7 linked regions of the Homo sapiens genome follow. The protein of the gene in region 7 purifies or fractionates together with the protein of the main gene of each other region. This does not show direct contact. Each region holds a gene or a part of one and is shown on either strand. Other genes may lie near its edges.

Evidence for each region.
Region 1: the proteins of ALG2 (region 7) and CELA3A purify together in Homo sapiens (co-immunoprecipitation; one large-scale study listed by IntAct). This does not show direct contact.
Region 2: the proteins of ALG2 (region 7) and KLHL12 purify together in Homo sapiens (co-immunoprecipitation; one large-scale study listed by IntAct). This does not show direct contact.
Region 3: the proteins of ALG2 (region 7) and KLK15 purify together in Homo sapiens (co-immunoprecipitation; one large-scale study listed by IntAct). This does not show direct contact.
Region 4: the proteins of ALG2 (region 7) and ACKR3 purify together in Homo sapiens (co-immunoprecipitation; one large-scale study listed by IntAct). This does not show direct contact.
Region 5: the proteins of ALG2 (region 7) and POTEF purify together in Homo sapiens (affinity purification with mass spectrometry; one large-scale study listed by BioGRID and IntAct). This does not show direct contact.
Region 6: the proteins of ALG2 (region 7) and ATP1A3 purify together in Homo sapiens (affinity purification with mass spectrometry; one large-scale study listed by BioGRID and IntAct). This does not show direct contact.

Annotation. Positions count from the first base shown.
Region 1 is NC_000001.11:22,000,376-22,004,961, reverse strand, and holds the start of CELA3A (chymotrypsin-like elastase family member 3A preproprotein), read right to left. Parts: upstream 3,306-4,586; 5' UTR 3,288-3,305; coding exon 3,245-3,287; intron 1,960-3,244; coding exon 1,874-1,959; intron 1-1,873. UniProt on the Homo sapiens protein: Efficient protease with alanine specificity but only little elastolytic activity.
Region 2 is NC_000001.11:202,906,509-202,910,513, forward strand, and holds part of KLHL12 (kelch-like protein 12), read right to left. Parts: intron 2,617-4,005; coding exon 2,502-2,616; intron 1-2,501. UniProt on the Homo sapiens protein: Substrate-specific adapter of a BCR (BTB-CUL3-RBX1) E3 ubiquitin ligase complex that acts as a negative regulator of Wnt signaling pathway and ER-Golgi transport.
Region 3 is NC_000019.10:50,830,521-50,835,252, forward strand, and holds the start of KLK15 (kallikrein-15 isoform 4 preproprotein), read right to left. Parts: upstream 3,055-4,732; 5' UTR 3,007-3,054; intron 1,004-3,006; 5' UTR 973-1,003; coding exon 930-972; intron 774-929; exon of another isoform or gene 579-773; intron 45-578; exon of another isoform or gene 10-44; intron 1-9. UniProt on the Homo sapiens protein: Protease whose physiological substrate is not yet known.
Region 4 is NC_000002.12:236,579,734-236,583,268, reverse strand, and holds the end of ACKR3 (atypical chemokine receptor 3), read right to left. Parts: intron 2,830-3,535; 5' UTR 2,804-2,829; coding exon 1,715-2,803; 3' UTR 915-1,714; downstream 1-914. UniProt on the Homo sapiens protein: Atypical chemokine receptor that controls chemokine levels and localization via high-affinity chemokine binding that is uncoupled from classic ligand-driven signal transduction cascades, resulting instead in chemokine sequestration, degradation, or transcytosis.
Region 5 is NC_000002.12:130,108,613-130,112,617, forward strand, and holds part of POTEF (POTE ankyrin domain family member F), read right to left. Parts: intron 3,490-4,005; coding exon 3,383-3,489; intron 2,069-3,382; coding exon 1,931-2,068; intron 1,746-1,930; exon of another isoform or gene 675-1,745; intron 1-674.
Region 6 is NC_000019.10:41,983,729-41,987,733, reverse strand, and holds part of ATP1A3 (sodium/potassium-transporting ATPase subunit alpha-3), read left to right. Parts: intron 1-1,504; coding exon 1,505-1,618; intron 1,619-1,735; coding exon 1,736-1,870; intron 1,871-2,310; coding exon 2,311-2,428; intron 2,429-2,547; coding exon 2,548-2,816; intron 2,817-4,005. UniProt on the Homo sapiens protein: This is the catalytic component of the active enzyme, which catalyzes the hydrolysis of ATP coupled with the exchange of sodium and potassium ions across the plasma membrane.
Region 7 is NC_000009.12:99,215,485-99,219,007, reverse strand, and holds the end of ALG2 (alpha-1,3/1,6-mannosyltransferase ALG2), read left to right. Parts: intron 1-171; coding exon 172-1,074; 3' UTR 1,075-2,583; downstream 2,584-3,523. UniProt on the Homo sapiens protein: Mannosyltransferase that operates in the biosynthetic pathway of dolichol-linked oligosaccharides, the glycan precursors employed in protein asparagine (N)-glycosylation.

The sequences.
Region 1 (4,586 bases), on a different chromosome or scaffold from region 7:
GTGCCTGGCTAATTTTGTATTTTTAGTAGACACGGAGTTTCACCATGTTGGCCAGGCTGGTCTCGAGCTCCTCACCTCAGGTGATCTGCCCACCTCGGCCTCCCGAAGTGCTGGGATTACAGGCGTGAGCCACCGCGCCCAGCCCCCCTGACTCTTTTGAACCTCAGCTCTTTCAAGGCCTCTTGAGCCTTCTGAAGCACAGCTCACCCTGATGAGTTCTTTGCCTCTCTTCCCATTTCCTACACATTCTGATTTTCAAAAGCTCCATCTAGACCAGGGTTAGCAAACTGTGGACAGTGGGGCACATCAGGCTTCTGGTCTGTTTTTGTAATAAAGATGTCCTGGAAATAGTCACATTCATTTCTGTATTGTTTGTGTCTGCTTTCATGCTACCATGGCACAGTCAAGTCATTACTATCCAAACCATCAAATAACCTAAAATATTCACTCTCTGGCCATTTACAGAATAAGCCTGCTGACCCTCTCCGATAAAACTTCCCATAATCATGGGAATGTTCTATATCTTTGCTGTCCAATATGGTAGCCACTAGCCACATGTGACTATTGAACATTTGAAATGTGGCAAGCAGGCCAAGCATGGTGGCTTACGCCTATAATCCCAGCACTGTGGGAGGTCAAGACAGGAGGATCACTGGAGCTCAGAAGTTCGAGGCAAGCCTGGGCAACATAGTGAGACCCCATCTCTACAACAATGTATAAAAATTAGCTGGGCATGGTGGCGCATGCCTGTAGTCCTAGCTACACAGGAGGCTGAGGTGGGATTATTGCTTGGACCTAGGAGGTCAAGGCTGCAGTAAGCTGAGATCACACCACTGCACTCCAGCCTGGGCAACACAGCAAGACCCTGTCTCAAAAAAAAAAAAAACAAAGAAAAGAAAAGAAAAGAAAAAAGCACTGAGGAAATGAATTGTTAACATTTTTAATGTAAGTAAATTTCAGCTGGGTGCAGTGACTCACACCTGTAATCCCAGCACTTTGAGAGGCCGAGGCAGGTGGATCACCTGAGGTCAGAAGCTCCAGACTGGCCTGGCCAACACAGTGAAACCCTGTCTCTACTAAAAATACAAAATTAGCCGGGCTTGGTGGCGCGTGCCTGTAATCCCAGCTACTTGGGAGGTGAGGTAGGAGAATTGCTTGAACCCGGGTGGCAGAGTTTGCAGTGAGCCAAGATTGTGCCATTGCACTTCAGCCTGGGCAACAAGAGTGAAACTCTGTCTCAATAATAATAGTAATAATAATTTAATTTAATTTTTTTTTTTGAGACAGAGTCTCACTCTGTTGCCCGGGGCTGGAGTGCAGTGGTGCAATCTTGTCTCACTGCAACCTCCAACTCCCAGGTTCAAGGGATTCTCCTGCCTCAGCCTCCTGAGTAGCTGGGATTACAGGCGTGAGCCACCGCACCTGGCCTAATTTAATTAAATTTAAATAGCCACAGCACATCAAGTCCAGCCTTCTGAGCTTCCCTCCACTGGCCTTACAAGATCCCTCACTCCCTTATTGCTTTCAGACCTCAAAGCCCTGTAGTATCATCCTAGGAATCTAGAAATGAGTCTCTCAAAATCTCACTTCGTCAACACAGTGCCTGAAATTCCACCATCAGTGTGCCAACTCCTTGAGTTTAGCATTTCCTTCACCCCCGATTCCAATTTTAAGTTGCAAATAGCCCAGTGAGGGTTACAGATGAAACGGGCAAAACCTCCCCGTGAAGTAGATGGTCCAAGGGCTGCCTGGTCTTTGGAAGCTGAAGTGGACATTGCAAAGGGAGCAATGGTGTCAAGGCTGGATGCCACGCCATTAGAGCTTAGGGTCCAGAGCCCACGGTGGGAATGAGGGCAGCTGCTATTGCTCTTACCTGCCAGGGCCAGCTGTAGGGGACCGCATCCTCACCATGGACAACGCGGCTGGAAGAGTGAGAGGAAGGTGGGCCATAGCCTGAGGCTAGAGGGGAGAGGAGAGCTGTCAATCAGCTGGAGGGTCCCCAAAAGCAAAGAGGAGGCCAGGGTCCCAGTCCAAGCCATGCCTTCAACTGGCTGTGTGACCCCATGCAAGCCCCTTTCGCCCTCTGGACCTCAGTAACCACATATGAACAGTGAACATTTAAACTAGAGCAGGGCTTTCCAGAATCCCAGGAGTCCAGGGATAGAGATTCAAATGTGGCCTCCTTCATTGGGAGGATTGAAGAGCTTGATACACTTAGAACAATGCCTGGCCCTCGATGAGCCCTCAAAAAGTGAGAGCTATTGTCATACAGAGTGGAGGCTTTAAAGAAGGACTTCCTGGGTTCAAAGTGCAGCTCTGGGCTGTGTGTGGTGGTTCACACCTGTAATCCTAGTGCTCTGAGAGGCCGAGGCGGGAGGATCGCTTGAGCCCGGGAGTTTGAGACCAGCCTGGGCAACATAGCAAGACCTCATCTCTAGAAAAATAAAGTACAATAAAATAAAGTAGCCAGGTATGGTGGCATGTGCCTATAATCTCAGCTACTCAGGAGGCTAAGGTGGTAGGATTGCTTGAGGCCAGGATTTTGAGACCAGTCTGGGCAACAAAGCAAGACCCCATCTCTACAAAAAAAAAGCAAAAAATAAAAACATTAAGTGCAGCTCTGCCTTTTGTTCTATGATAAGCTACTTTACTTCCTTGAGGGTCAGTAAAATGGGGGATAATGATAGTACTGATCTCCTGAGGCTGTTGTGAGAATTACATGAGAAAGTATAAGAAAATCCCTAAACATTCTGCCTGGCATAGTAAGCACTCAATCAATGTTATCTGTTACCATTATTGTCAGTCAAGGGAGGCTGTTTGGAAGAGGTGGCCCTGAGCTGGAATGTAATATGGCAGAGAGACCAGGAAAAGGCCAGAGCATAGAATATGGAGCCAGGTAGGGGGAGTGAGAGGAGAGTTGGAGTGGTAAGTAGAACTGTGGAAATTCCAACCCAAGAAGTCCAACCACACAGTCCAAACTCTTAACCGTTTGACTTTGTTTACTGCCCCCATCAAGGACTTCCACCACAGCCCTTTGGGGGTCTTTCACCATCCACAGCTTCCCCTCCACTCTCCTGCTCCATCATAAGCTGAAAGCCCCTACAGTCATGCCCCCGGGTACAAGCTGAGACCCCCTCCTGTGGAACCAGGCATAGCATGTCATGGGACTCAGAGCGAGTGGTAGATTTCAAGGATTCCTAGTCCAGGGCAGCCCAGGGAGCACACAGACAGGTTGGGGTCTTACCAACGGCCACAAGGAGGAGGGAACTGAGCAGCCGGAGCATCATGAGTTTTGTGATGATAGGAAAAGGGCACAGAGCCTGGGGCTCTAATATAGGGCAGAAGGTAAGCAGGGGGGCTGATTGGGCCCCACTCCCAGAACAGGTGGTGGAACTCCAGGTCTCCCATGGTCCAAGGCCACAGTCCTCGCCTGCTGCAGATGGACAAGTGACAGCCAAAGGGAGGACCTAGCGTTCCCTCCAACAGGTGGCTGGACAGGTGGTGTGGAGTGGCCAACTGATAACAAGAGTTCAGGAAGAAAAGCTCATGTCAGGACAAGACCTCCTCTTTCGGAAAGAACAGGGGCACTGGAACCGGGCAGACCACGGTTCAATCCTGGTTCTGCCACCTTCAAGCTCTGCGACTTTGGGCGCATGGCTTAACCTCTCTGAGTCTCAGTTTTCTGCTCTCTAACATGAGATTTATATTAGTACCCACCTCCACAAAAAAATTCTTGTTGAGCACTTTTTCTCTATGTATCAGGCACTGTTCTAGGGGATACAGCTGTGAAAAATGCATGGTCTCAGCCCTTCTAGAGTTTGAGTCTAGGCCAGGAGCGGTGGCTCACACCTGTGATCCCAGCGCTTTGGGAGGCCAAGGTGGGAGGATCACTTGAGGTCAGAAGTTCGAGACATGATGAAACCCTATCTCTACTAAAACTACAAAAATTAGCCAGGTGTGGTGGTGAGCACCTGTAATCCCAGCACCTGTAATCCTAGCTACTGGGAGGCTGAGGGAGGAGAATCACTTGAACCTGGGAGCGGAGAGGCAGAGGCTACAGAGAGCCGAGATCATGCCACTGCACTCCAGCCTGGGCCACAGAGCAACACTGTCTCAAAAAACAAAAACAAAACCAAAAAAAAAAACAGAGAAGAAAAGAAAATGAAACATAGGTGATTGGGGTAGGAATGGGAGTAAGTCATTTAGATGGGGGGGACAGAGAAAGTGACATTTGGGCTGAGGAGGTCATATCTGATGGAGTCCTGAGGATAAGTAAAAGCCAGCCACGGGAATCCCTGAAAGAAACGCGCTCTGAAGGGAGGCGACAGCAGGTGCGAAGTTCTGGAGGCTGCAATGGGCTTGACTTGTTCAAGGAAGGGGAGGCCAGTGTGACAGGAGCTTGGTAGTCAAAGTAGAGAGGGGTGGGAGATGAGGTCAAAGAGCAGGCGACCCCGAAAGTGGAATTCACAGGTGATCCAGCCGTTTCCCTCCTAGGTCTATACCGTGAGAAAACCTTAGGCATGTGCTCCAGGAGGTGTGGATGAGATTGTTTGCCGCAGCCCCTGTTCTCAAAACTCAACAGCAAA
Region 2 (4,005 bases), on a different chromosome or scaffold from region 7:
GGGAGTTTATTGTTTAATGGGTACAGAGTTTCAGTCTTGTTAAGACAAAAAGAGTTACAGAGATTGATTGTATAACAATGTATTTAACATGAGTCAACTGTACATGTAAAAATGGTTAAGATGGTAAATTTTATGCTAAATATATTTTATTTAATTAATTTATTTATTTTTGAGATGGAGTCTCACTCTGTCGCCCAGGCTGGAGTACAATGGTGCAATCTTGGCTCACTGCAACCTCCGCCTCCCGGGTTCAAGCGATTCTCCTGCCTCAGCCTCCAGAGTAGCTGGGATTACAGGTGTGCACCACCACACTCAGCTAATTTTTGTATTTTTAGTAGACATGGGGTTTCACCATGTTGGCCAGGCTGGTCTCGAACTACTGACCTCAAGTGATCTGCCCACCTTGGCCTCCCAAAGTGCTGGGATTACAGGTGTGAGACACCGTGCCCGGCCTGTTACATATATTTTACAAAAAAGAAAAAAAAGACTTCCATCCAGAAGGTATACAAATATTTTCCTATAATTTCTTCTAATATTCTCATAGTTTTTCACCATTCAGTCCTTCAATCTATCTTGTGTTGATATGTATCTGTGTATAAAGCATATGAAACACAGATCACATTTTGTCATCTTGCAGTAGTAGAAAATACCATCTACAATGCCCTATCTAAAAGTTCTCTTTTTAAAAAAATGCAGTATCTTTGAGTGGTAAGATTATGGATGATTTTTATTTATTTTTTGCTTCTCTGTATTTCTACAAGTTCTACATTGAACATGCAGTACTTATGCCATTAAAAAATATAGGAGAGGGAGCCAGGCATGGTGGCTCATGCCTGTAATCCCAGCACTTTGGGAGGCCAAGGTGGGTGGATCAATTGCAGCCAGGAGTTAGAGACCAGCCTGGTCAACATGGAGAAACCCTGTCTCTACCAAAAATACAAAAATTAGCCAGGGATGGTGGCAGTCGCCTGTTGTCCCAGCTACTCGGGAGTCTGAGGCACAAGAATTGCTTGAACCTGGGAGAGGTTGTAGTGAGCCAAGATTGCACCACTGCACTCCAGTCTGGGTGACAGAGCAAGACTCTGTCTTAAAAAAAAAAAAAAAAGGAAAAAAATTATATATATATATATGGGAGGCCTGTAATCCCAGCACTTTGGGAGGCCAAGGCAGGTGAACTGCTTGAGTCCAGGAGTTCAAGACCCAGCCTGGGCAACAAAGGAAGGCTCTGTCTCTACAAAAAAATATAAAAATTAGCCAGGCATGGTGGCACGTGCCTGCGGTCCCAGCTACTTGGGAGGCTGAGGTGGGAAGACTGCTTGAGTCCAGGAGGCTAAGGCTGCAGTGAACCGAGATCACGCCACTGCACTCCACCCTGGGCAACATAGTGAGACCTCATTTCTATTAAAAAAAATAAAATATAGCGGATAAATCACCATTCTACCTAAACCCATCAGTGAGCAGCTTAATTATCAACTAACACCTTAGCACGCATCATGAGTCCTCAGTCAGATAAAAGGAAACAATAAAACAAAATACCACCCCATACATATAGAGTAATTCATAACTTATAAAATGTTTTTATACACTATACACCTAGGCTTTTGGACAGTGAAGCAAAGAGAATAGGAAGTGGAAAGTATGGTGATATCTGAGTATTTAGTGTGTGCCAGCTATAGTGTTAGGTATCTTATATACATTATCTCATTCAATCCTCCCAACACTGAGATAAGACACTAACTCTCATCTTAGTGGTAGACATACAGGCTCAGATAAATTGATACCTTGCCCAACCAGTCATTGCTGGGGCTTGGATTTGAACCTAGGTCTATTTGCTAAGATAATAGCTAATACACATAGTTATTATGTGCCAAGAAGTGTTTTAAGGCTTTACATAAATAACTTTATTTACTCTTCATAACAATGTTACAGGCAGGTGCTACGATGATTCCATTTACAGATGAGGCAACTGAAGCACACAGAGGTTAAGGTTCCTGCCCAAGTTAATAAATCTAGTACGAGGTAAACTGGTACCTGCACCAACAGTAACTGCCAAAACCCATGTACTTTCTACCACACTGGGCTCCTTTTCTTCCTCTCTTCATTCCGGAATGGAAAAACCACATAAGGGGAAGTGAAGAGGTGGGTGGAAGCATATACTACTTACCTGCCATTATGTGGCACTAAAATTATCTCTAATTCACAGAATCTAAATAATATTGACAAAAAATTGTAACATATTATGTAATGCCTGACAATGTATAAAGTGCTTTTATATTTTATCTCATTTAATTTCCAAATAATTATGTGAAGTAGATAGAGAAGACATCCTTGATTTATAGGAAAGAAAGCTTAGAGTGGTAAAGTGACTTGTCTGAGATGATAGAAGAAAAGGTCTGAAACGAGGTGTCTGTACTTCTTATAGAGTATTATTTTCAACTATGTTGTCACCTGCAAGAAGTAGTTGAAAAGCATCCCCTCATTCTGCCGAGATACCAGCTTACCTAGGCGAGCCCTTGTCCTGGGTCCCTGCATCTGACTCCGAAGTTCAGGCCTCAGATGAAACTTCTTTGCTTCATCAACCAGATCCCTGCATTGTAAACTACAGCGGATGAAAGGCTGAAATATAGCAGACAGCAGAGTTAGGCACTGGGGATACCTGTAATACTATAAGAGTACAAAGAGCACATGCAAATAATTAACTTCTGACTACAGAAAACCAGTTTGCAAAGCCCTGTGATTCCAGGAGTATTGCTGGTAGTAACCATGCTCTCGGTTTCCAGAAATGATTTTTAAAATTTACTTGAAAAATAGATAACATACTAGATGGATCAAAAATCAAATGATATAAACAGATATGTTGAGCAGTATTTCCCATCTATCGCAGCGCTTACATTTAACTATTTTTACATAGTTTGGATGCCCTTCCAGGGATTATGCAAACACAAGTACATAATAACTAATAAGAATTTTAAGGGGAAAACCAAAAAGATTCTGTTATTTTCTGGGTGACAGGAAGAATCATATTTTGTCTGAAATATCTCCCCCAAGGTTCACAGTCCTGTTGTAATTACCATTGTCTATTTCTGACAGCTCTGTACTGGACATCTTTCATTTGCCTCCCAACTCACTCTGTACCTTTTTCCACTCTGCTCTCTGGCTCAGAAGACTGGCCTATATGAACTGTGTCAATAGGGCTTCCTATGCCTTCTAGCTTCTGGTTGGGATCAGCCCAACCAAAGGTCAAGGTTTCTCTCAAGGCAGTGACTCTACACGATTCTCTTTCCTTTAAGGTTCTAGTAACCACTCCTCAACCTTGTCCCTTCAGGCTTAGGGGTTGTTAATAGCTTATGTCCTAGATCCAGGTTATTTCACTGTCTTTTGTTGTTTCTCTGAACTTGCGCCTTTGTAAACAGCTTCTTTATTAAAAAAAACTCTTCTAAAATTGTCCTGTTTTGAGTATAGCATCTGTTTCCTGTTGGGACCCTAAAGGACACAGCTCTAATTAAATGGCACCTCTATTAACCTGACCCAAGAAGTTCTTAGTCGAACTGGAAAGGAAAACAAACAATAAATAGTAGTAAACACTTATGTACAAAGACTTGGTTTTAAAAGTTTTCACATAGTAACTTACTCAATGCTAACAAGAACCTATGAGGAACGTACTATTATCATCCCTGTTTTACACATAAGAAAGCTAAGGCACAAATATATTAAGACATATTAAGTTCACAGAGTAAGTGGTGAATTTGGGATTTCAGGCCCGAGTCTGGTTCCAGAGTCTGTGCTCCTAAACACAATGTAAAGAACTAGACACAAGGGATATGTGAATTGGTTGTAAGAAAGACAGAAATCACAAACAGGAGAAAAAGAGTTTGAGATGTGACACTGACCATGCTGCAACTTTTCTAATGTGAACAACTGAAAAACTGTTTGTAGTTAACTAAGAGATCTAGGGCTGGGCCAGCAAGAGGAACTCTTCTTGCTGGGTTACCTACATATTATAAA
Region 3 (4,732 bases), on a different chromosome or scaffold from region 7:
AAGGTGGAGGCCCCAGCTGGGCGCAGCAGGCAGGCGCGAGGCAGGTAGGTGAGTGCACAGAGAGAGCCGGAGGGGAGGCTGGAGGCGTGGGGGTCTCAGGGGCCCCCAGGAGTGAGGGTCATTTGTGGCAGAACGTTAATGAAAGTCCACCCCCCAATTTCTCCAGAAGAGAGGCATCAGGTTACAATTAATTTCTTGGTGTGTGGCAGCTGAGTTCAATCTGGAGTTTGCCTGACACCCAAGGTGACCTTGATGTTGTGGCCGTCCCTCTGAGCCACAGCCCCTTCCCTTGTCAAATGAGGTCGGTGGTGCCCACCACACATAGACGTTGTATGTAAGCTCTAAGCACCGTGCCTGGCTTGCACACCTGAAGGGGCACTACCTGGGCCAGGCTTATGCTTCTGCCTCACACACAACCACATTTAATCCCCTCAAAGACCCTGTAAGAGACAGGGAGTGGCAGGTGTGGGACTCAAGCTGGAGTCTGTCTGTGCTGTTGGCCTCTCAGCACTTGTCTAATGCTTGCTATGTATATTACCTCTGTTATGCTATTGAGACCTCACTGTTATTGTCTCAAGTGGGTGCTGTCTTATAGAGAAGGCATTCGAAGCCCAGAGAGGTGAAGCAGTTCCCTCAAGGACACACAGCAAGGAAGCGGTTGCCCCAGGACTCAGCTCAGGTTTGTGTAACCCCAGGACCGTGTTCCTTGTCGTGGGCAGCGAGAGGCCCCAGGCAACATAGCGACTCCAGAGCAGCAGCACCAGCACCTGACGGTAAGGGCTTAGGGACATTGGCACAGGTGGAGGGTGAAGGAAGGATCTTTAGTGGTCTCTGGGTGAGGTAGGGGCTGGCAGATCACTGGGCCCAGACATGCTTGGGAAGGGGGCACCTGCTCCCACAGACCTGGCCCCCTCCTGGGGCCACCTCACCTGTGGATGCCAGCAGGAAGGAGAGAGTGAGGAGAAGCCACATTGTGGAGGAGGGACCAGGGTTCGGCTGCAGTCTGGGGAGGGAGTGAGAGAATCCAGGTGAGGCAGGACCCTTCTGCCTCCACCAGGATCCCTCCAGACACAGACTTATCCCATCCACTGTTAATAAATTTCTTCTGACCACCGGTATCCCCTTCCCCCAACCCCACTCTGCGCTTCCTTCTGGGTCCCCCATCTCTGGAAGGTTTACTCTTCCTCTAGGCACTCGGACAGACCCTGCCCCACCTCCTCCACCTGTCAGCCTCCAGCACCATGCTACCAGCCCCTGGATCTCTCTCCATCATCACCAAGGACCCCTGTCCCAACTTTTTTTTTTTTTTGAGACGGAGTCTCACTCTGTCACCCAGGCTGGAGTGCAGTGGCACAATGTCGGCTCACTGCAAGCTCCACCTCCCAGGTTCACACCATTCTCCCGCCTCAGCCTCCCGAGTAGCTGGGACTACAGGCGCCCACCACCGTGCCCGGCTAATTTTTTGGAAATTTTTTTTTTTTAAGTAGAGACAGGGTTTCACCGTGTTAGCCAGGATGGCCTCAATCTCTTGACTTCATGATCCACCCACCTCGGCCTCCCAAAGTGCTGGGATTACAGGCATGAGCCACCGCGCCTGGTCTATCTCAACCCTCTTATCTGGCCTTTTGGGTCCCCCTCCAGTCCAGTCCCCTCCACCAGCTTGCCCTCCAGCCATGACCCCAAAGGGTCTTTCTACATCTGGAGCTGGCTGTGCCCCTCCCCTGCTCACCACCCTCCATGGATCCTTGGCACCACCAGGATAAAGTCCAGCTCTTCAAATTCACTTTCTTTCTTTTTTTTTCTTTTTTTTTTTTTTTTTTGAGACGGAGTCTGGCTCTGTAGCCCAGGTTGGAGTGGAGTGGCGTGATCTCCGCTCACTGTAACCTCTGCCTTCTGGGTTCAAGAGATTCTCCTGCCTCAGCCTCCCAAGCAATTGGGATTACAGGTGTGTGCCACCACGCCCAGCTAATTTTTGTAATTTTAGTAGAGACGGAGTTTCACCATGTTGGCCAGGCTGGTCTTGAACTCCTGACCTCTAGTGATCCACCCGCCTCAGCCTCCCAAAGTGCTGGGATTACAGGCATGAGTTGCCTGGCTCCAGCCTCACTTTCAAGGACAAAAGTGGCTTCTTCCCTTCCAGCCCCTCTCCCTGGGTCTCCCATGACCTTGTCCTAGACGCAGCCAGTGCTGCCATTTTCCCTCCTGCCATTTCATGCTTAGGCTATTCCTCCCACCGCATATCCAACGCCATTCCCTTCCAGCCCCGCTTCCTCCTTGAGGCCTTCTCTGACCTCCCCTGACCCTCAGTGGTGTCTGCCTCCCCTACGAGACTGGCAGCTCCCCGAGGAGCTGGTCTGACTCCACTCTGGGTCTCCAGTACTGCAGGGCCCGACCCACGGGAGGCCTCAGGAAGCTTTGAGGGTGAATTGAAATCCTTCTTCCCCATATCTTCCAAATTCATCTTTGTCCTCTGACACTCTGCCCCCACCTCTTCTGGGAGGCCCCAACACCTAACAGGTGTCTCCCCTGAATCCCACAGCACCCATTCTGTCTCCATTACAGCGCAGATGCCCCATACTTGCTGAGGTCTGGCCTGTTCTTTTCTCCATCTGGGGGTCTTGAAGATGGGGCTCAGGTCAGGTTCTTTCTGTGACCTCAGCACTGCCCCACCTGGGGCCTGGTACACAGGAGGCCTCCGGGAGGTTGTGCTGAACTGACTTGAACCCGTGATCACTCCTGACCACGTTCTTGGCTCTGATACAAGTACTTCAGGGACGTCCTCCTGATCCACTCCATCCCCCTCCCTCCCCACCACTGCAGCTCCTTCTGGCCATTCCAGGACATTTTCTTGGTTCAGGTTCAATTTGGGGCATTGGTAAAGGACACGTGGATCTACCCATGCCCTTGACACTCAGTTCTCCAAGCGTGGTCAACGTTTCCCCTTGAAACCAGGGCACAGTGAATCTCCCCTTTGCCCCTCCCTCAGTCTTGTCTCAAAGCTCTCACCTCCTCCAGATCCTCCAGCAGCATCTAGGGCAGCTTGGGTGCCAGAAGGGAGCAGGTACCAGGATGCCTGAATTTATAAGCTCCCAGTCCCAGCTGGGTCTGGGGGTGTGGTGGTGTAGGGTGGGGTGGGAGGTGGCTGAGAGTCAGGTTTACAGGCAGAGACGCCTTGGTTGCTGGTGGGGTGGGAGACTTGGCCTAATGAGCATTTATTAGGTTGAAGCTGTTGTCTGAGTCCACAAAGAGGAATTCTCCACCAGGAGCAGTTCCTCAAGGGGGAGGGGACAGGAGGACAAAAACAGAAATTAGGAGGAGATCAAAAGACAGAGTCTGGAATTTGGGGTCTGGAGTGTGGAAACTGGATCCTAAAGTCCCTGTTCTTGGGCTTGGGGCAGAGTTCTGGATCCCGGGTTCTGGATCCGGATCTGGTTCTGGATCTGGGTCTTGGATTCTGGATTTGAGGATCTTGAGTTGGAGATTAATGACCTGCAGTCTGGAATATGGATTTCAAAGTCTGAGTTCTTGGGCTGGGGGTCTGGAATCTGGATCCTGGAGTCGGGCCTTTGAGTGACAGATCGTGAACCTTGATTCTGGATCCCGGGGCATTCGAATCTAGAACCCACAATAGGAGCCTGGAATCTGGTGTTTGGAATCTGGCAATCGAGGCTGGAAACCTTTGCACCTGCTATGAGAAGCCTGGGGCCTAGACTACAAATGGTAGATTTGGGATTTTGAATTGTGGGGTCTGGATTCTTTTTTTTTTTTTTTCTGAGATGAAGTTTCGCTCTTGTCACCCAGGCTGGAGTGCAATAGCGTGATCTCAGATCACTGCAACCTCCACTTCCTGGGCTCAATAGATTCTCCTGCCTCAGCCTCCTGAGTAGCTGGGATTACAGGCGACCACCACCACGCCCAGCTAATTTTTATATTTTTAGTAGAGACAGGGTTTCACCATGTTGGCCAGGCTGGTGTCGAACTCCTCATCTCAAGTGATCCACCTGACTCAGCCTCCTAAAGTGCTGGGATTACAGGCGTGAGACACCATGCCAGGCTTGGGGTCTGGATTCTACAGGGTGGATCTAGCCTCTGAGCTTTCAGGAGTAGACTTTGGAACATACAGTCTGGAGTTTCAAATCTGTTTTTGCATTGAAAACCTGGACTGTGGCTGGGCCCAGTGACTCATGCCTTTGGGAGGCTGAGGTAGGAGGATTGCTGGAACTGAAGGGTTTGAGACCAGCCTGGGCAACACAGCAATACCTCATCTCTATGAAAAATCTAAATAAATAAATAAATAAGTAAATAAATTTTTAAAAGGCTGAATTGAGAGACAGGGACCTGGCTTTCACGATTCTGAGATTGCTAGAATCTTGACTCTAGAGTCTGAATTTAGAGTCTGGGAACCCAGGGTCTCTATTCTGGTCCTGTAGTCTTATTTCTGGGTTCTAGAGCTTGAAATCTGGATTCTGCATCCCAGAGGCTGGAGATGATCACTGAGATGACCCAAGGCTTTGGGTATTTGAGGCTGGCTTCCAATGTCTCAGAACCCCAGAGGGCCCCAAGCAATTATCTAGAGTCTATTTTGGCTTAATTAATGAGGAGGTCCCAAGACAGGAGGGACTGACCTCACTCAGGTCACCCAGTGAAGGATGGGACCTGTTGTAAGCGTGGTCTCTCCCCATGTGTGGAAAGTCATCATCTTTATGGGAAGGATTCAGCCATTCTAGAACTA
Region 4 (3,535 bases), on a different chromosome or scaffold from region 7:
CTGTAGTGCACTCGGTCTATGGGCCCCTGGGGACTGCAGGGCTGCCCATTGTGGGTCTGTGGGGCAAGGACTTGCACAAGGTGCTTTCCAACCTAGCAGCAGCGCCCAAGCCCACAGGTCAGACGAGCATCTGGGTCTGCCTTTGGGTTGGCAAACAGCTCTCTGTGCAGAGAGGTCTTGGCAGAGGTGGAGGTGGTGAGGGCAGTGCTGGGAGCCCAGCCCCTCTCTGAGCCCCTGCCCAGCTGACTCGTCTGTTGAAGTCTCCGCCATTCTTGTGGCTCCAGGTAGAGTTAGAGAGGGCACAGCAGGAACTGGCCATTCTGAGAGCACTCTTTCCAACCACTAGTAAGGACATGCGCAAGCTGGGGATTCGCTCATTGTGTGGCCTCAAGGGGGTAGCTGATTGGCATGGTTTAAATGAAAACTCTCAATAGGAAATATTGCCCCTGGAGGTGTTTACCTTAGCAGATGAGATTTAAGGGGCTGTGCCACTGGCCCTGGAAGCACACAGGTGGTACAGATGAGGACACCAGTCCTGCACCCTGAAACTCTCCTGTCTGGACGGAGAGTTCAGACAGGTTCAGAACAGAGATGGCTCTGGCCAGCAGGAAGTAGAAGCAAGTGGCACCTTCTCTGTGCCAGCCTTCTCTCCTAGCTGGACCCTAGCAATCATCCCCCACACCAAAAACACTATTGCCTGAAAATTTTTTTAAAAACCATGCAGTGTGCTCAAATGATTTTTTCTTTTTATATCATTTCAAACAAGTTAACCTGGTAGCTTTTGCTTTACAGCAGCACTCTTTTTCTGAGCATGTTCATGCAGGTGGCCTGTGTGTGCCATATATATCCATGAATTATTATCATGTGTGCTATTCAAGTGCCAAAACACACTTTGAAAACTGAGACTTGATGCATTTTTAGGAAACAAAAATCTTTATTAAAAAAAAATAACTTACAAATTGAGAGAACTCTCTGAAATGCAACTGTTCGTTGTGTGTGCAGATTTGCAGTCCAGAACAGTTTTTTGTTTATTTTAAAATGTAACTTTACAATACTATTAATGTCACAAACTGCATTACAAAGCAGTTTTCGTTCCATATCCCGTGCCGGTACAAAACACCACACAGATATAAAACTATGGTAAATAAAACATTTCAGCCAAGACTGGCATATATTTATATATTTATATATATTTATATATATATAATTTCAAAACAGCTAACAATTAGTGTCATCCTTAGTCAAAACTGAAGTCACGCTAACCTTAAAACTACAACACTCTGAATATATGTCAGCACTATGCCTCCCAAACAATATTTAAAATATATTTAACTTTCAAATACATTTATAAGGTACACCAATAGTGAGAAAATAAAGTCTTAAAATTTAAATACAAATCACCATATAAAAAATTCAGGAAACACAGAAAATCCTATCTTACAGAAGTCCAGGCAAGCCTGTCCTCAGCTGGCTCTGACGCACAGCACTGCTGTGCGACACAGCTCTGCCTGTTGCAAAACTGTCAGCACGCACAGCCAAATGACAGCTGCGTCATCAAGAGAAAGAGAGAATGGATGCAGGGGGCACGTGCTCCCCTCTTCACTCTACTCAAGCATCAAGACCCGAAGCTACTTTGCTTTGCTCTAGAAAACCATAGGGCCCATCACCCTGTTCAAAAACAAGTAAACCCGTCCCAGAGCCTCTCCAGGGCAGATCATTTGGTGCTCTGCTCCAAGGCAGAGTACTCCGTCTCTGAGACTCTGGAGGCATCGATGAGCTTGGTGAGCCCTGTTTTGGCCGAGTACTTGAAGATGAAGGCCTTCATCAGCTCGTACCTGTAGTTGCGATTGATGAAGCTGTAGAGGACAGGGTTGACGCAGCAGTGCACCAGCGACAGGCACTGTGTGACATGCAGGGCCGTGAAGAGGGCGTGCTCCAGCCGGCAGGTGAAAGGGATGTAGTGCAGGATGGAGAAGATGTCCAGCAGCACCGCCACGTGGTAGGGCAGCCAGCAGACAAGGAAGACCACCACGTAGGAGAAGATGATCTTCCGGCTGCTGTGCTTCTCCTGGTCACTGGACGCCGAGATGGCTCTGGCCAGCAGGAAGTAGAAGACAGCGATAATGGAGAAGGGAACGGCAAAGCCCAAGACAACGGAGACCAGCTCCATGCCGATCAGCCACTCCTTGATGCTGTGCTCGGGGTAGAAGGACCGGCAGTAGGTCTCATTGTTGGACGCAGACGTGACGGTCTTCAGGTAGTAGGTGTCAGGCAGAGACACGCAGAAGGCCAGCAGCCACACCAGGATGCAGACGACACGGCGTACCATCTTCTTCCTGCTGCTGGGGGTGTTGGTGAAGTAGGTGATGGAGAGGTAGCGGTCCACGCTCATGCACGTGAGGAAGAAAATGCTGCCGAAGAGGTTGATGGAGAAGATGAGGTGTGTGACTTTGCACGTGAGCTCGCCCATGGGCCACTGGTTGTGCTGCACGAGACTGACCACCCAGACTGGGATGGTGAGGACAACCCACAGGTCGGCAATGGCCAGGTTCAAGATGTAGCAGTGCGTGTCATAGCCTGTGGTCTTGGCCTGGATATTCACCCAGACCACCACGGAGTTGGCAATCATGCCGATGACGAAGATGAAAATGTAAATGAAGGAGAGCGTGTAGAGCAGGACGCTTTTGTTGGGCATGTTGGGACACATCACCGTGTCCACCACGATGCAGTCGCTGCTGTTGCATGGCCAGCTGATGTCCGAGAAGTTCCCTGGCTCTGAGTAGTCGAAGAGATGCAGATCCATCGTTCTGAGGCGGGCAATCAAATGACCTATGAGAAAACCAAGCAAACAAAAAAGATGGAAGAGGAAAGTCACTTCATTAGGAAAAACTCAAGTTTCAGGCAAAAATGCTTTTCCAAGGCCCTGATAGGCTCAGCTGTTTGGGTTTAGCTCTGTAATGTCTTTGCAAAGAAGGGAGAAAAAAAATTCATAATAAAACTCTCCAAAACAAAATAAATCATACTCTGAATCTAAATCCATGTGGTGCTCCAAGACAGAAACTGTGTTTGCTTTCTCCATCTTTTCATGGCTGTGTTCTCAAGACACCGCCAGCATGGCTGTGCCCAGTGTGTGAAATCAACACAGTACAGGGGCCAAAGAAACGTCAGGCAGCTGAGCCCCGGCCACCGCGATGCTGATGGCCTGCTCACTCTCAGCAGGGGACAGTGGAGCCATTTTATCTAGGTCCCCAAAGAATGGCAGGGTTGTCCTCTCCTGGCACTGCTGTATTACAAGTGTCCTGCTTTGGTGTCTTAATGAAAGCATTTCAAATCCTCCTCCAAATTTGCATTTATAATGTGACTCAGCACTTTTTACTTGTCTGCTAAATTCACATATAAACCTGGGTCTCAGGCGGCCCCAGTGTGCAGTCATAAAGCCTCTGGAAACACAGTGAGCCTACGCAGGGTGCCCCACAGCTTAACTGCGCCCCAAACCTGAAGACTCTGGGTTGGCCGTGTGGTTTTCAACGAAGGG
Region 5 (4,005 bases), on a different chromosome or scaffold from region 7:
ATATGCAAATGTTGTAGTTTTCAGAAAATGTTATTAAGTCCTAATTTTGCTTCTTAGTTGTCCTACTCTTTATGGCTTATAATTCAGGGCATCTCAACTATGTCATAGTTTATAACTAAATTTATTCATAAATATCTCATTAAAGTAGATAATGTGATTGTCCACTATTACGGAGTTGATCAATCACACCAAGGGCAGAAAAACCAATGGATGTTAAGACCTGACTTGGACCAACGATCCTTCTCTACCGACTCAAACTCTCAGCCAGTAGATGTCTGTTAGGATAATGCTTTATATTGATGTTCAATTCCAGCTGACATGGGAGACCAAAAGTCTACTTTTATTTTTTTTTTAGTTTCCACGGAGAAGTAGCAAGCTGACATTCTGTAATTTTCGACATACATACTAACAATATATTTTGCACGGAACATGTTATTCAGCTCAAAGTCATCTCATAGACCATCTTACATGACTATTTTTGCAGCACAAATCACAATTTCAATATTTGGGTGGCACCCATTTTGCTTTGATTCACACTATTTCCTCAGAGCTAGTCAGCAAAAATAGTCAAATGACCTTCCAGTGACTGCACAAAATATGGAATGCTTCAAAGATCTGTCCTGCCTCCTTATGCAGAAGCCACGCTAACTTTCCCCGTATTGTTCCAATTTTAGGATATGTGCCGCCGAAGCAAGCACAAAGCCCTACTTTTACATATGATTAGTGATGCGTCATGGACAAGGCTTGGCTCTGTGAAGTCCAACTAACCTACTTGAGATTCTGAGAATTCTCTTCAATGGCTTCCTGTGAGCTAGAGTTTGAAAATATCTTAAAATCTTGAGCTAGAGATGGAAGTAGCTCCGATAATTTTCATTATCATGTAAATCAGATCACTCAAGGGGCCAACCACAGCTGGGAGCCACTGCTCAGGGCAAGGTTCATACGGGACTTTCTACTGCCCAAGGTTCTATACAGGATATAAAGGTGCCTCACAGTACAGATCTGGTAGCAAAGAGGAAACAGACACTGACCTCCTTCTGCCACATTATTTGAACCCCTCTCACCCTTTAGAACAAGCCCACCTAACATCTGCCAGAGAAAAGACCAACAACAGCCTCAAAGGATCTCTTACCATGAAGGTCTCAGCTAATTCCTGGCTAAGATGTGGGTTCCACATTAGGTTCTGAATATGCGGGGAAGGGTCAATTTGGTCACTTTGTGTGCGGATAAAGTCAGGATGCCCAGCGGCCAGAGCAGGGGGCTGGTGCTCTGGGAACAATGGCTGAGCATATAAGCATAGGTATGGGAATTAAAAAACATCAAAGTCACTGTATGAATCGCCATGAAGACTTGAGGGATCTGAATCTACTGATTCATCTTAAGGCAGCAGGACCAGTTTGAGTGGCCACAAAGCAGCAACAGAATCAACGGAAACAACAGAATGATTGCAATGTCTTTTTTCCTCCTCCTTCTGACTTGATAAAAGGGACTGTCTTCCTTGGATTTAGTGAACTCCTTCGGTTCTTGAAAAATTCAAGGAGTATGTAGGACATAGTCCCCAGAAGACAGTACAAGACTTTCCGCTAAACTGGACATTTCAAGACCCAAATAACTAATCAGAAAAATTAAAGATGTGACACTATTTTTTATCCCTGCATAGGTGTTACACTTGGATCAAATGAACAATGCTGGGATCTCTAAGGATAAAGATCTTAAAAGTCCTGAGATAAAGAATCCCGCACCCATTGGTACTTCTAACTTGTCTTGCTTTTTGTCTGATTTCTGGCTGATGCAGGGGACTAAAACTCACTGCCACGCGAAAACTACCTGAACCAAACTATGACATCTCACCTGATATGTGAGATGCAACTGTTATAATTATTTTAAACCTCAATTCAGCATTAACTAGCCTTTTAATGTAAACACTTACACATGATGATGACTAGAAACAGCATACTCTCTGGCCGTCTGTCCAGATAGATCTTGAGAAGATACATCAATATTTTGCTCAAGTAGAAGGCTGACTATACTTGCTGATCCACAACATACAGCAAGTATGAGAGCAGTTCTAAAATGACAGAGATAGGAACTGTAATAAAGTTATTTTTAAAGCTAATTTGATATACTTTACCAATGTAACATCTTGCCTGTCTGTGCAGAATCAAACATTTACATGCACTAAAAGACATAAGCAACCTGAGTGCTCAAGTGTTCATCTTTGTAAAATGCCACCAAGGTTAAAAGGAAGGGACCAAAAAAAACCCTCTTATCTCAGTGGGGTATTGCATAGCAGAAGCTACTAATTTAAAGTCCTTTGATGGGCAAGAAACAATGTTAGGGCCACTTATCTGAGGTGGACAAAGATTTAAGTGAAGATTTTGTCACAGCTTCCCTAGACTGACATGCTGTAATAGAAAATCAGCTAGGGGGTAAGAGAAATAAGAGCTCTCTGCATGCTCAAAGCAGTAATAATAATGGTAAGAATAGTAGTCATAGGAGTTTCAGTTAATGGTGCCAATAACCATGTGCTAGGCACTGAATTAAATGCCACATATATCTTTCTTACTTATGCACAGCCAACTTTGAAGGATATATTCTCCTACTTTTCATATATGACAACATATTTGGTGGTAAATAACGTCCCCAAGGTCACACACCTAGCAAGTAAGAAAGTTACTAATTAAACCCAGTCTTGTGTGAATCCAAAGCCTAGCTCTTTTCTCTTTATCACCCACGTACGGCTTGTCTTCATTAAAGGAAAAGTGTATCCACTTAAAACTATCTTCACTCCCTCTCTCCATACCAATTAAAAATAAAAACATCAAAATACACTGGAAAAACAAAAGGAAAAAAGCTGTTGAACCCACAGTATGTGGGAACAGCAATTAATTGTTATGTAGGGATAAGCTAACACTAATATTCTTCAAAGAAAGCAACTTAAAGCAAAGTCATTAAAAAGACAAAAGGATTTTCAACCCCTATTTATGTTTAATACAGCATATTTAATGGAAAAGCATGTAAGACACAGGTTAAAAACTATTAGAAAGGGTTAAGAAGTTCAATACTGAGTCATAAAGTAAACTAAAAGTTAAAGTTCAAACTTCATAAAATTAATATGAAATCCTTTAAGCTAACATAAGATCATGTAACCAAAAATGTCACATAACAAATAACATCAGTCAATATAATAAGAGAAGATGAATCCTACTAAAACTGTTCTTTATGTTGCCCAGCCCAAGTAATTGTTTTTCTACCTAACTGATTTGTGTTGATACTGATCACTACATCCCAGTAAGTATACATTAATCTTATTAATTTAATATTTATGACTTGAGTGACTGCTGTCCATCTACAACACACAGATTAAAAGAAAGAACTATACCTTCCATATCTATCCAGTGCATTTAAATTCGCTTTTTTCTTAATTAAAAATTTCACGACTTGCTGTTTTTGCTCATGTACACCAAGTAACAGTGGTGTGAGGCCATGCTGTAAAACAATATAAAGCAAAAACCTATGTAATTCAAAAAAGTACATATTCCTCAACCGAAGTGGAAACTTTATATAAGATCTTATGGACTTACACGCATAGAAGTAAATAAAATGTAGTCACTTCCTTCTCACTCTTCTGTGCTTTCCCACACGCTGCTCCTTCCCTTGGAAACACCCCTTCTCTGCCTCACCACAGTAACTCTAATCATCTCAAAAACTCACTTTAAACATTTACTGCTTCCAAGGCTCTTTGCTTCTAAACCAGCATTTGGCTTGGTGTTATTGGATGATAATATTTTTCCCATCTAAACAAAAAGCTTCTTGAGGGCAGGGGCTGTATCTTTTGTCTCTATATCCTCAACCCTAAGACAAATTGTGTATAAAGCAAGAATCTGCATGTAAAATATTTCTTTAGTTTCATGTTTTACCAAAAGTTCAACCTCCAACATGCAACAAAAATTGCTATTAAAACTCATACTGCCCATTTGAAAAAATTTTCCAACATTTATTTAT
Region 6 (4,005 bases), on a different chromosome or scaffold from region 7:
CCACAGCAGGATGTGTGAGCCGGGGCTCTGTCCCAAGGCTGTGTGACCTCAGCGGCCTTGAGAACAGACACCAGCAGGTGGTCATGGCTTGACAGATACCCAGAGTGAGTGTCACATAGAGACCCAGGCACACCCCGCTGCTGATACATCAGGGCCCATCCCCATAACACAGGGACACATTCGAGATGCAGCCTCAGATCCCATGCGCATAACACAGACCACACACCAGCCACACAGAGCTGCTCACCTGGGTAGGCGTGTGTGCACACACACGCATGTGCACGGAGGGTCAACGCAGATGCCACACCAGGATGTGGTTTCAAACATGGCCACCTAATTCAGAAACACAGACACAGACTCAGATATACACTGACAGAGAAACTCACACACACACTGACACGCACACACACACACAGCAATGCAGGCATAACCTGGTGACAGAGAGACATGAGAGTCAGGCACAGAGAGTGTCCTCAGATGTTCAAATCTAAACAGTCTTAGACATAAGCTCTCACAGAGAGGCAGAGCTGGAGACACAGAGACAGAGATCCACACACAGAGAACCAAAGAAGCTGCCTTGTAGAATGTAAAGTCAGGCATGCAGCCAGTCAGACAGACACATGGACAGACAGCCGCATCCCAGACTCAACATGTGCAGGAGGACAGACACACACACAAAACAGATGGACAAGTCGGGCATGGTGGCTCACGCCTGTCATCCCAGCACCTTGGGAGGCCAAGGCAGGAGGGTAACTTGAGACCAGGAGTTCCAGTAGCCTGAGTAACATACCCAGACAGACCCAGCCTCTAAAAAAACACAAAACATAGCCGGGCCTGGTGGCGCACACCTGTAGTCCTAGCTACTCCGGAGGCTGAGGAGGGAGGATTGCTTGAATCTGGGAGGTTGAGGCTACAGTGAACTGAGATTGTGCCACTGTACTCCATCCTAGGCAGCAGAGCGAGACCCTGTCTCAAAAAAAAAAAAAAAAAAAAATGCCAGGAAAGATGGCTCACACCTGTAATCCCAGCACTTTGGGAGGCCAAGGTGATAGATCACAAGGTCAGGAGATCAAGACCATCCTAGCCAACATGGTGAAGCCCCATCTCTACTAAAAATACACAAAATTAGCCAGGTGTGGTGGCATGCACCTGTAGTCCCAGCTACTCAGGAGGCTGAGGCAGGAGGATCGCTTGAACCAGGAGGCGGAGATTGCAGTGAGCCAAGATCATGCCATTGCACTCCAGCCTGGGCGACAGAGTGAGACTCTGTCTCAAAAAAAAAATCGACAGACCCTTAGATTCAAACACAACCATTACAGAAAGAGGGACTCAAGCACAAACAGGGGAGACTCAGACACACCAACCCTCATAACCAACCTAGGGTCAGACACACAAATACAGACCCCCACTGACACAAAGCTCCCTTCCCAGACTCCAGGCGAGCAGGGACTGGTGGAGAGTGGCTTGGGCGGCCCCTGATCAACATCCCCACATCTCCCCACAGCTGTACCTGGGCATCGTGCTGGCGGCCGTGGTGATCATCACTGGCTGCTTCTCCTACTACCAGGAGGCCAAGAGCTCCAAGATCATGGAGTCCTTCAAGAACATGGTGCCCCAGGTGAAGGGTGCCCAGCAAGGGGCCAGACGGGGGTGTTAGTGTATGGGCTGGGGGCCGGGCCCAGTGACCCCCAGGCAGAGGGAGTCTGGGAGGTGACATTACTCCATCCCACCTCAGCAAGCCCTGGTGATCCGGGAAGGTGAGAAGATGCAGGTGAACGCTGAGGAGGTGGTGGTCGGGGACCTGGTGGAGATCAAGGGTGGAGACCGAGTGCCAGCTGACCTGCGGATCATCTCAGCCCACGGCTGCAAGGTGGGCCTGGGCCTAGGGCCCGGCTTTACCCTCCCTCGGGCTGCCCAGGAGCTCAGGCCCAGCCCCTCCTCCCTCACACTCAGGAGTCCAGGTCCCAACCCCTCCTCCCTCAGACCCAGGAGTCCAGGCCCCCAGGCCCTCCTCCCTCAGACCCAGGAGTTTAGGCCCTGGGCCACCTCCTCACCCAACAGTCAGGAGTCCAGGCCCAGCCCTCACCTTTCGGAGATCCTTAGGGACCCTAGACCTTGGCCAGCAGCACTGTGCCTTCCCCACCTTCAAGATCCCAGCCTCTGGCCTCCCACACACCACTCACCCACTGGGCACCCAGGCTTCTAGCTGTGATCTCCAGGCACACAGGCTTCAGCCCCAAGCCCTGTACACAAATACCCTCCTGTCCCAGGCCCTGGACTGAACCCTCTCTCTGCTGCACCTACCCCCAGGTGGACAACTCCTCCCTGACTGGCGAATCCGAGCCCCAGACTCGCTCTCCCGACTGCACTCACGACAACCCCTTGGAGACTCGGAACATCACCTTCTTTTCCACCAACTGTGTGGAAGGTGAGGCGGGTGCAGAGAAGACACACAGCTGGGGCAGACACAGGGATGTGTCCCAGGGGGTCAGGCCTCCAGAACCTCCCTGAGCCACCCCACCTCAGCCTAACCCCTCTGGCCTGCAGGCACGGCTCGGGGCGTGGTGGTGGCCACGGGCGACCGCACTGTCATGGGCCGTATCGCCACCCTGGCATCAGGGCTGGAGGTGGGCAAGACGCCCATCGCCATCGAGATTGAGCACTTCATCCAGCTCATCACCGGCGTGGCTGTCTTCCTGGGTGTCTCCTTCTTCATCCTCTCCCTCATTCTCGGATACACCTGGCTTGAGGCTGTCATCTTCCTCATCGGCATCATCGTGGCCAATGTCCCAGAGGGTCTGCTGGCCACTGTCACTGTAAGGCCAGGCTCCTGGGTCTGGGTGGGGAGGGCCTGGGGGTCTGGGCTCCTGGGTCTGAGGGAGGAGGGGCTGGGATCCTGGACCCCTGAGTCTGAGGGAGGAGGGGCTAGAGGCCTGGACCCGTGTGTCTGGGGGAGGAGGGGCTGGGATCTGGACCCCTGGGTCCGGAGAAGGGGCTGGGGGCCTGGATCACAGTATTCTTGTGAAAGACAACTTGGGCCTGACTCAGAGGGCCTCATTAACAAAGCAAACAATCAAAGAAAGAAACAAACAAAAATCTTGAGAAACACTGGCAAGCCGTAAAGAGCCAACAATCCTATTGCAAAATTAAGAAGTGCACGCTCATGATGAAAAGTTGAAGAGTACATCAAGTTAAAAAATAAAATAATGAGGCTGGGTGCACTGGCTCACGCTGTAATCCCAGCACTTTGGGGGGCCAAGGCGGGCAGATCAGCTGAGGTCAGGAGTTCAAGACTAGCCTGGCCAACATGGTGAAACCCTGTCTCTACTGAAAATACAAAATTAGTGGGGCGTGGTGGCACATGCCTGTAATCCCAGCTACTCAGGAGGCTGAGGCAGGAGAATCGCTTGAACCTGGGAGGCGGAGGTTGCAGTGAGCCAAGATCACGCCATTGCACTCCAGCCTGGGTGACAAGAGTGAAACTCCATCTCAAAAATAAATAAATAAATAAATAAAATAAAATAATAAGCCTGGCGCAGTGGCTCACGCCTTTAATCCCAACAGTTTGGGAGGCTGAGGCAGGAGGACTGCTTGAGGTCAGGAGTTTGAGACAAGCCTGGACAACATAGTAAGAACCCATCTCTACCAAAAAATGTGAAGGCTGGGCGCAGTGGCTCATGCCTGTAGTCCCAAGACTTTGGGAGGCCGAGGCGGGTGGATCACCTGAGGTCAGGAGTTCGAGACCAGACTGGCCAACATGGCAAAACCCCATCTCTACTAAAAGTATAAAAATTAGCCAGGCGTGGTGATGGGTGCCTGGAATCCCAGCTACTCAGGAGGCTGAGACAGGAGAATAGCTTGAGCCTAGGAGGCAGAGCTTGCAGTGAGCCGAGATCGTGCCACCTCACTCCAGCCTGGGCGACAAAAGCGAGATTCTGTCTCAAAAAAAAAAAAAAAAAAAAAAAAATTTTTTTAAATTAGCCAGGCGTGGTGGTACATGTCTGT
Region 7 (3,523 bases):
TTCTGTACACCAGGCATATGGTACTGGGTGAGAGTCTTGGGGAATAAAACAGAATCAGACATTGCCCATGAGGAGCCCACAGACTAGCCAGACGGGGTGGGTGTCTGTGTTTTTGGTTTGGTTGAAGTTGAGTTGACCACTTTATCCGCTGTTGATTTTTGCTTTGGCTAGGTGTCTGCCTGTATCCCAGTGTTCAGGCTGGCTAGACGGCGGAAGAAGATCCTATTTTACTGTCACTTCCCAGATCTGCTTCTCACCAAGAGAGATTCTTTTCTTAAACGACTATACAGGGCCCCAATTGACTGGATAGAGGAATACACCACAGGCATGGCAGACTGCATCTTAGTCAACAGCCAGTTCACAGCTGCTGTTTTTAAGGAAACATTCAAGTCCCTGTCTCACATAGACCCTGATGTCCTCTATCCATCTCTAAATGTCACCAGCTTTGACTCAGTTGTTCCTGAAAAGCTGGATGACCTAGTCCCCAAGGGGAAAAAATTCCTGCTGCTCTCCATCAACAGATACGAAAGGAAGAAAAATCTGACTTTGGCACTGGAAGCCCTAGTACAGCTGCGTGGAAGATTGACATCCCAAGATTGGGAGAGGGTTCATCTGATCGTGGCAGGTGGTTATGACGAGAGAGTCCTGGAGAATGTGGAACATTATCAGGAATTGAAGAAAATGGTCCAACAGTCCGACCTTGGCCAGTATGTGACCTTCTTGAGGTCTTTCTCAGACAAACAGAAAATCTCCCTCCTCCACAGCTGCACGTGTGTGCTTTACACACCAAGCAATGAGCACTTTGGCATTGTCCCTCTGGAAGCCATGTACATGCAGTGCCCAGTCATTGCTGTTAATTCGGGTGGACCCTTGGAGTCCATTGACCACAGTGTCACAGGGTTTCTGTGTGAGCCTGACCCGGTGCACTTCTCAGAAGCAATAGAAAAGTTCATCCGTGAACCTTCCTTAAAAGCCACCATGGGCCTGGCTGGAAGAGCCAGAGTGAAGGAAAAATTTTCCCCTGAAGCATTTACAGAACAGCTCTACCGATATGTTACCAAACTGCTGGTATAATCAGATTGTTTTTAAGATCTCCATTAATGTCATTTTTATGGATTGTAGACCCAGTTTTGAAACCAAAAAAGAAACCTAGAATCTAATGCAGAAGAGATCTTTTAAAAAATAAACTTGAGTCTTGAATGTGAGCCACTTTCCTATATACCACACCTCCCTGTCCACTTTTCAGAAAAACCATGTCTTTTATGCTATAATCATTCCAAATTTTGCCAGTGTTAAGTTACAAATGTGGTGTCATTCCATGTTCAGCAGAGTATTTTAATTATATTTTCTCGGGATTATTGCTCTTCTGTCTATAAATTTTGAATGATACTGTGCCTTAATTGGTTTTCATAGTTTAAGTGTGTATCATTATCAAAGTTGATTAATTTGGCTTCATAGTATAATGAGAGCAGGGCTATTGTAGTTCCCAGATTCAATCCACCGAAGTGTTCACTGTCATCTGTTAGGGAATTTTTGTTTGTCCTGTCTTTGCCTGGATCCATAGCGAGAGTGCTCTGTATTTTTTTTAAGATAATTTGTATTTTTGCACACTGAGATATAATAAAAGGTGTTTATCATAAAAAAGAAACAGTATTAGATTTTGGTCTCCATAATCTATTTTGGTATTGTTACGAACATGGATATGACAACCAAACTGGAAATCAGAACACTAGGGTAAAGTGGATATTGAAATGAAGCAAGAATATTGTCACACATGTGTTGTGCATCTTGTTTAGGGTATATTTCTTAATGTCATCTAGGTCATTAGTTTTGTTAATATTTGTGTTGTCTTGACCAAGCTCCTACTAAGTATAGGACACAAATGTTTTTTATCTTCCAAGGCCTGGCTCAAATGCCACTGCTGCAAAGCTTTCTTTGACCCTCTGGCCACCTCCCAAGCCAGAAGTTATCTTCCCCCTCCATGTACTCTAGCCTTTTCATGACACTGATATTTTCGTGACACTGACTTATAGTTCACTGTTTACCTGTTGGTCTAACAGCAAATCATAAACAGTAGTTTTCAACATACTTCTAAGGCTAAATTCATTTCCAGAAGTAGCAAAGCTTACTAGCCAAAGGCTCCACATTTATCAACTCTTAAGAGCTAGACTTGAGAGCCTAACAGCCTATATGATTTTGTGTAAATTGATCTCTATACCTCAGCTTCTTCATCTGCAAAGTGAGATAATTGTACTATTCTACTTTCCTCATAGTGCGGTTATAACAGATTATGATAATATTACAAAGTACTTAATACTTGGCATATAGTATATATATTAGCTATTAGTATTTTGCAATTTGGGGATATTGAAAATTAGAAATTGCATGTTAGTTCATGCTGCACTACCATATTGTTCTTTTGGGGCTCTTCAATGGGTGAAATTCCATTTTACAGTTTATCATGTGCATCTGTATCACAGGAGTATTTTGGCAAAATGATTCTGTACCAAAAAGGAGTACTATAAAATGAGGGTGCCAAATATATTGAGTCTTTTATGGGATTAAAAGTTCTGTTGCATTCCATTTTCTTTGGCATTGTGAAAGCTTACCATGTAGTACAGAAGGTATGATTTGGTTCATGTGTTTCTGAGAAATGCAGCCTTTCCAGGAAGCCTGGTGGCTCTTACCATGGAGTTTAGCACAGATAGACTTGGCCACACTGTGACCTACAACATGGTGCTTACCTTACTAAGCAGCACTAAACATTTGCATATTTGACCATTTTTATGCAAATCCTTTCAAATGGACTACATGGGTTCATGGACCCTGATTTTAGCTTCACTTCATTGTCCTAAGCCGGAGTGAGTGACAATAAGATTTCACAGGTCTGGGAGGGATGGAGTCCTGCCTGCCATGAGCTTCCAGCTTCTGACCATTAGTTCCTGGTTCCTGGACCCTAGAATGGAACTTTGCCCTTAAGAAGTGTTCACACCTTCCAAAACTAAGCTGAAGTTAGGGAAAGTAGAAGCATGAAACATTGAAGGTGAATTGTTGGGGCCTTATCCATAGTAATTCTGGTAATTACTTTGTGCAGGGCAGGAAAGGAGATACATACATAGCAGATGCTTAATCCTCAACAATTCACTGAGATGTAGGTATTCTTCCCTTTTAGATGAATGTAGTTAAGCAAGTTGCCTGCGTCCCATGGCCTTGAAGAATGGACAGAATCTCAAGGCCCTCTGATTCCAAAGTCCAACCACTTTACTATTCTTCAGTCTGCCCTCACCCTAACCAAATTCTTTGTGTAATGTTTTTTCAGTACAACTCCCTCTGCAGCACTGCAGTTGTAGTTGTACAGGTCTTTGGGTTTAGAAAGACTTTGCTGTTTACTGTCCATTTGCCTCTTCCCATCAGTCTTCCGAGGTGAGTATGATTATCCCCCATCTTACACACAAGCTCAGAGAGGTGAAAGACTTGCCTGAAGGCACACAATTGAAAAGTAACTGAGCCAGCATTTGGCCCT